Linked DNA regions of Homo sapiens. Each later gene encodes a partner of the first gene's protein in a complex. Each region holds a gene or a part of one and is shown in the gene's direction. Other genes may lie near its edges.

Region 1 (3,752 bases):
AAATGTGGATGTTAAGCACAGCTGGACTTGAAGCCCAGTTCTGCCGCGCTTCCTGGCTTAGTCTCTGGAGCCTTAGTTCTCTCATCTGCAACAAGGGGTAGATGTACATAGCACTACCACTGGGGCAAAGGTGAAAGCATCTGAAGCACTTGGCTGGAATCTAGCAGGTGCTTAGGGTGCTGCAGTGCCACTGCCACCCGAAACTTGCTGGCTCACTGGCTGCAGTGTTTTTGGTCAATGAGGTGGGGCCTCCTTATTAAGGATTTATGTGGTCAGCAAAGGAGTTCTTTCCCATCCATGTGAGTGGGCAGTGAGACCTGGGAGTGTCTTTCCATCTTCTCTCTTTGATCCTCTTTGCAGCTGGCAAAAACTCAGGGGAATGTGTTTGCCACTGATGCCATCCTGGCCACGCTGATGAGCTGTACCCGCTCAGTGTATTCCTGGGATATTGTCGTCCAGAGAGTTGGGTCCAAACTCTTCTTTGACAAGAGAGACAACTCTGACTTTGGTAAGAAGCGTGCCTGGGGAGCAACTCAAAGGCATTGAGTATTTTTGTTGGTACAGAACAAGTCTCTGGTACTAGAGAATGGATAGAAAGTGGTCTGTCTTCCCAAGGGAATTGACAGCAGCAGTGTCTGAATCTCCCACACTCTTTAGAGGTTAGGAGAAGAGACTGTCACTGCAGTACCTGCTTGAGGCCTCAGCTTTTGGAGTCCTCACAGCACCCTAATAGCAAGCTTCCAAATGTTGCTTTTTTGTTGTTTTTTTTTTTTTTTAATTGAGACAGAGAGTCTCACTCTGTCACCCAGGCTGGAGTGCAGTGGCGCAGTCTTGGCTCACTGCAGCGTCTGCCTCCCACATTCAAGTGATTCTTCTGCCTCAGCCTCCCGAATAGCTGGGATTACAGGCATGTGCCATTACGCCTGGCTACTTTCTATATTTTTAGTAGAGACGGTTTCACCATGTTGGCGAGGCTGGTCTCGAACTCCTGGCCTCAAGTGATCCATCAGCCTTGGCCTCCCAAAGTGCTGCGATTAGAGGTGTGAGCCAACACACCTGGCCCAAATGTTATTCATTTAAATACCCCTTTTTCGACTTTTGCCATCTTGCATACCTTGTTCAGTGTTTGCTTACTGTATATACATATATATTTTTTATACCATACATATATGTATTTATACACCATAAAGGAAAACCATGTCACTCAAAAATTAACAAAACAGGCTGGACACGGTGGCTCACAACCTGTAATCCTGCCACTTTGGGAGGCCGAGGCGGAGAATCACTTGACATCAGGAGATCGAGACCAAGCCTGGCCAACATGGTGAAACCCAGTCTCTACTAAAAATACAAAAATTAGCCAGGTGTGGTGGTGGACACATGTAATCCCAGCTACTTAGGAGGCTGAGGCAGGAGAATCGCTTGAACCCAGGAGGCAGAGGTTGCAGTGAGCCGTGGACACACCACTGCACTCCAACCTGGGTGACAGAGCAAGACTCCATCTCAAAAAAAAAAGTGTTTATATTCTGAGCCTGAAGCCTGAGGTCTTTATTAAAAAGCTTGCAAAATCATTCTCTTGAGGAATCCAAAACGACTGAAAAGGGACAGCTTCGTTACTGTGTGATTGAATTGAATGTTGGACAGTATCTTGAGTTATCCTGGAGCAGCTGCCCCACTCCCCCGCTTATGTGTTCCACACCAGGGAGACCCACTTTAGGAGAGGGCAGTTCTTTGAAGGAAGGACTTGTGTTGTTTGCCTCTCCACATCTCCCCACAGCGCTGCGCACATTGTCAGTGACTCTTTGTTGCATGGTGAGTGACCATGCCACGCTTTTGCAGACCTCCTGACAGTGAGTGAGACTGCCAATGAGCCCCCTCAAGATGAAGGTAATTCCTTCAATTCACCCCGCAACCTGGCCATGGAGGCAACCTACATCAACCACAATTTCTCCCAGCAGTGCTTGAGAATGGTGAGGAAACGAGTCTCTGGGCATTGATTCATTCTTATTTAATCAGCTGCTGTTTGTGGAGCATCTGCTTTGTGCTAGGCTCTTGGTTGTGGGACTGAGCAGGTCAGACGCAGTCCCCACCTTTAGCAGGGGAGTTACATGCCTGGGCTTGGATGTTAGGCTCTCTGACTTTGAACAAAGTTCCTGCCCTTACAGAATTTAATGATAGTGGAGGAGGAAACACAGTGAACAATAAATAATAAATTGATTTACATCAAATGGTGAATATATGCCATGGCAAAAAAATGAAGTAGAGATGAGCATGGTTACTAAGTCATTGTTCTAATTCATCAGGTGCTAACAGTTGGGAGGGGTCAAGTAGGCACAAAACAGGCAGCGAGCTCAGAGCCCCATCAAGGGCCCCAGGAACCTGGCCAGGGCTGCAACTAAGCAGAGGTGCTGGGTCTGACTGATTGGCCTTGGCCTTGTCAACAAAGTTAGCTCTGTCTTGTGACACCTTTGTTTTTGCAGGGGAAGGAAAGATACAACTTCCCCAACCCAAACCCGTTTGTGGAGGACGACATGGATAAGAATGAAATCGCCTCTGTTGCGTACCGGTAGGTCACCTCTCTGGTGGGTATTGTGGCCAGACTGGAGCACGGGCCCCACTCTATAGAATCCCCAGTGACCACATGAGTTTCTTTTTTGCTGCAGTTACCGCAGGTGGAAGCTTGGAGATGATATTGACCTTATTGTCCGTTGTGAGCACGATGGCGTCATGACTGGAGCCAACGGGGAAGTGTCCTTCATCAACATCAAGACACTCAATGAGTGGGATTCCAGGGTGAGCCGCCATCTCCATCACCCTCCTGGTGACACCATGTCTCTATTCCCTACAGTGCCTGTTTACGCAGGCTAGGTTGTATAAACTGTTTCTTATCCCCTTTCGTTACTTATAGAGCTACCTGGATGTTTTTTTTTGTCTTGTGAGTTTTTTCCTCTGCTTAGTTCCTTGCTGAGAAAGAGCATGACTGTGTGTGTAGAACTATGTTAAGTGTTAAGAACTTTTCTGCTTATTTTTTACGCAGGAACCAGTTAACTCCCTTCTTCCAGTACTTTCTTCATCTCTGTTCCATTGTGGCCTCCTGTTGACTTCTGCTCCCTGAGCATCTGATTTTTTCCTCTCCTTATTATCTGGGTTGGCAGTTTTCCTGTAAGTCTGGCCGCTCTTCTTTTTGACCTCTTCTTTCATTGACTGAGCCACTGCCTTCAATCTTTTCACACATTTTTTGCAATTCCTCATTTCTTTAACTCATGGATTCTAAGATCTGGCTCAGAATTGACTCTTCAGAGGCACCTTGAAAGAAACATGCTTCCTTCACTTTTCCTCCTCTATTTCCACCCCACCCCTCCCAATCCGCCCCCCCGCCCACATCACCTGTTGAAAGAGCACACTGGAAGGTTTGCCGCTCTGGGGCCAGCGGCCTTTTCTTGGATTTTTCCTGGTGAGCTCCCCAAAGCATTCAGGGCCGTCGTGCCTGTGTCGTTTTGCCGTCTGTGTTACCGCGTTACTCTGGTCTCACCCGTTTCCCTGTTCCGTTTGCATGTCGTCTTTGCTGGCTCCCCTCCTTTTTGATCCCAGTGGAGTCACCTGGACAGCTCTCTTCGCCATACATACTTCTGTATTATATAACTTTGTATTAGTTTTCTTTCGCACCATAACAAATTAACAGAAACTTAATGACTTAATACCGATTTATGTATTTTACTTTTATTTTTTATTTTATTTTTCTGAAACGGAGT
Region 2 (3,752 bases), on another chromosome or scaffold:
CCTGCCTCTTAAAAATATTTTAAATGAATGAATAGCAGTAATGCTTTCAAGTTCCTAAAGCAATATTTCTTTTTAGTGATGCTGCTTCAAAAGTCATGGTGGAATTGCTCGGAAGTTACACAGAGGACAATGCTTCCCAGGCTCGAGTTGATGCCCACAGGTAATGTTAAACGTTACTCTGATGAGGGTTTGACAGCGATGTAGAGGTAAGCTACAATATTAAATTAAGTAACTGAAATCATGTTTGCAACTACCAGTGATCCAGAGCCATTTGATAGTGTGTATTTCCTGGTGATTCTAATGTAGATACTAAAATTCAAGGTTTGATATTGGAAGAACTGTGGATTGAATATGAAGTAGCTGCATGGCGTTTACCTGGCGGGGGGGGTATTGCTGGTATGGGGATGATGATCCCAACCCAAGAATTAGAACCTAATCTTGGGCCAATTGACCCTAATTTTAAGGTTATAGGTGGAAAGTTGATGGCTTGCCAAAAATTAACCCATTGCTAATGAGTATAAGGGCTTTTAACAGTCTTAGATCTAACTGGTAACAAGAATAGAATCAGTTTTCTAAATCTATGTAATAAGGATTATGAAACTTCTTTTTTTGGTCATTGCTTTGTGTGGACCTCTACATGATAGGAGTTGGTAAAAAGGGAAGTTGGTGGTAAAGATCCTTGACTTTGAGGTCAGGCTGCCTCCATTCACATTCTTACTCCACCTCTTAATGAGCACTTCTGAACTGCTTCATAGTTGATAAAGGGGGCAGAGTAATACTGTTTGTCTCCTAGGTTGTTGTGAGGAATAAATGAGATGTAAGGCAAGTGAAGCACTTAGTGTCTTGGCATGTGGTTCTGCTGCTGCTTACTATTTGATTACCTTGGTGCTTTCTCTCCAGCTATGTTTTTATCTACAATTAATATATTTCATTTTGTTAAAACAGATGAACCTGATAAATGTGTTGGCCTGTCTTAACCCAATCCTGTAGCTTTTTTAATGTTGTTTATATGTTTTGGACTGTTAGATATTTTGCCGAATTAAGTATATTTTATGATCTGCAAAAACTCAATGAAAAGCCAGGATTTCAAAACCCTGAGCTTACATTTTTGTTCTCTAATTAAGGTGTATTGTACGAGCATTGAAAGATCCAAATGCATTTCTTTTTGACCACCTTCTTACTTTAAAACCAGTCAAGTTTTTGGAAGGCGAGCTTATTCATGATGTAAGTAGTTTATCCTTTAATGTGAAAAATGTTCTCCTTTCCTAAATTTTACATACTGAAGCAGGACTCTTTTTCTTTGCATTAATAAAAGTGACTAATGGCAAGATATGGAAAGATTAAGAACTATGTATTCTTTTTATATCAGGAACAGACATATTTAGGACCAGCTTTTCTTCATCCACTGAGCAGAGTCCTATTCTTCCTCCCTTTCTTAATTTCTTTTTTTTTTTTGAGACTGAGTCTCACTCTGTCACCAGGCTGGAGTGCGGTGGCATGATCTTGGCTCACTGCAACCTCTGCCTCCCTGATTTAAGCAATTCTCCTGCCTCAGCTTCCAGGAGAAGTAGCTGGGATTACAGGCACATGCCATCAGGCCCAGCTAATTTTTGTATTTTTAGTAGATACAGAGTTTTGCCATGTTGGTCTGGTCTCCGACTCCTGACCCCCCTGACCCCAAATGATCTGCCCACTTCGGCCTCCCAGAGTGCTGGGATTACAGGCGTGAGCCACTGTGCCCGGCTACCTCCCTTTCTTTCATCTTCTCACTTACTCATCATTATAGACTTAGATAATACAAGTTTCTTTTTTATTACATATATATTGTTCCTAGCCCCACTTAGGAATATAAGTCTGATATTTAAAAACACATGAACATTTTTCAAATGCAAGTATAAATATATTTTGGACTGTTGTGCATCTGGACTATGCCATTAGCCATCATCTTTCAGTGTGGATAATTTAGAGCTCAGTGTATTTACTGATTATTTCATTTTAAAAGTGAGCCATGTGAAAGCAGATGGTTTGGTAATTTGATGAAACAGAATGATATTTCTGCCTTGAACAAAATGTAGGAGTCAGTATCTTTAAAATAATATTTACAATATCTTAGAATATCTTACAATAAATCTGAATTCTGTATTGATGGTATCTTTTTTGTCTCTTATCTGTATAGCTTTTAACCATTTTTGTGAGTGCTAAATTGGCATCATATGTCAAGTTTTATCAGAATAATAAAGACTTCATTGATTCACTTGGTAAGTTTTGGGGTTTATTCTTTGAGGCACAGAGGTGGGAACATGATACACTAACAGTTATGTACTATGTGTTCCAGCAAGTATGGCTGTGGCCTTATTTGTAGATTATCCTAAAAGGAGTCGTGTATGATAGAACAGCACAAAAATAGGTAGACAGTTTAAAATATTACTTAGAATGAATTGAGAATCAGAAACCAAGAAGGTGTAGGAGGTGGCATTTGTGATAGAAAGAGAATGAAACTGGGAGTATGAAAACAACTCGGGGCCCAGCGCGGTGGCTTAGAGGTATAATCCCAGCACTTTGGAGGCCGAGGCGGGCGGATCACGAGGTCAGGAGGTCGAGACCATCTTGGCTGACTAACATGGTGAAACCCTGTCTCTACTAAAAATACAAAAAATTAGCCGGGCGCGGTGGCGGGTGCCCGTAGTCCCAGCTACTTGAGAGGCTGAGGCAGGAGAATAGCTTGAACCCGGGAGATGGAGGCGGAGGTTGCAGTGAGCCAAGACTGTGCCACTGCACTCCAGCCTCGGCAACAGAGCAAGAGTCTGTCTCAAAAAAAAAAAAAAAAAAAAGAAAGAAAAGAAAACAACTTAGCACTTGTAATCCCAGCACTTTGGGAGGATGAGGTGGGTGGATCACTTGAGGTCAGGAGTTCAAGACCAGCCTGGCCAACATGGCAAAACCCCATTTCTACTAAAAATACAAAAATTAGTGGGCATGGTGGCACATACCTGTAGTGCCAACTACTCAGGAGCCTTAGGCAAGAGAACCACTTGAACCCGGGAGGCAGAGGTTGCAGTGAGTTCAGATCACACTGCTGCACTCCAGCCTGGATGACAGAGTGAGGCTCCATCTCAAAAAACAAAAAAAAAAGAGAGAGAAAATGACTTGGAACCTTTTTGTCTCATTTAAGAGCTTGCTGAACTTTAGGCCCTTCCAGCTCTTCTGTACCATGATTCTTTGAGGTAAAGTTATATCAACAATCGGGTGTTTGGAGAAGATTGAAGAAATAGTTCCATTGGTACATTTGTTTTTAAAATTTAGAGATGGAGGAGTGAGCAGAAAAGCAACTGAAAGAATTACCATTACTTTGATCATAATGGTAACTTTCAGAAATGTTTTAAGAGCTGATAAAATTTGATGATTAAAGGTACTTTATTAAGCTAAACATTATTCTTAAAATAATATTGTTTCTTTGTAGAAGACTTTATTCCTTAGATATATGGTGATTTGTATTTTTGGTCCCTTTTTTTAAGCCATAGCCACAGAATGGTAACAAATAGTTTTTTCCCCCCTACTATACTATTTTATGCTTGGATACCCCCGCCATTAACAAATTACAAAAGTATATAGTATTGCCAGTTAGATCTGAAAGATGGAATTAGAAATGGAAATGTAATTTTACATGATAGTAAGACTTTTCTAACTACGTTTGTTGAAAACAGCATAGTCTTTATTATTTTTATCTTTGAATTTTCTTGTCTAGCGTATCA

Evidence for each region. The genes of interacting proteins can lie anywhere in the genome.
Region 2: EIF3D (region 1) and EIF3M share a complex: the UniProt entries of both Homo sapiens proteins name them as parts of the eukaryotic translation initiation factor 3 (eIF-3) complex.

What each region holds. Positions count from the first base shown.
Region 1 is NC_000022.11:36,515,519-36,519,270, reverse strand, and holds part of EIF3D (eukaryotic translation initiation factor 3 subunit D), read left to right. Parts: intron 1-360; coding exon 361-508; intron 509-1,777; coding exon of another isoform or gene 1,778-1,839; coding exon 1,840-1,970; exon of another isoform or gene 1,971-1,971; intron 1,972-2,480; coding exon 2,481-2,566; intron 2,567-2,663; coding exon 2,664-2,793; intron 2,794-3,752. UniProt on the Homo sapiens protein: mRNA cap-binding component of the eukaryotic translation initiation factor 3 (eIF-3) complex, a complex required for several steps in the initiation of protein synthesis of a specialized repertoire of mRNAs.
Region 2 is NC_000011.10:32,593,790-32,597,541, forward strand, and holds part of EIF3M (eukaryotic translation initiation factor 3 subunit M), read left to right. Parts: intron 1-76; coding exon 77-160; intron 161-1,124; coding exon 1,125-1,224; intron 1,225-2,176; coding exon 2,177-2,258; intron 2,259-3,752. UniProt on the Homo sapiens protein: Component of the eukaryotic translation initiation factor 3 (eIF-3) complex, which is required for several steps in the initiation of protein synthesis.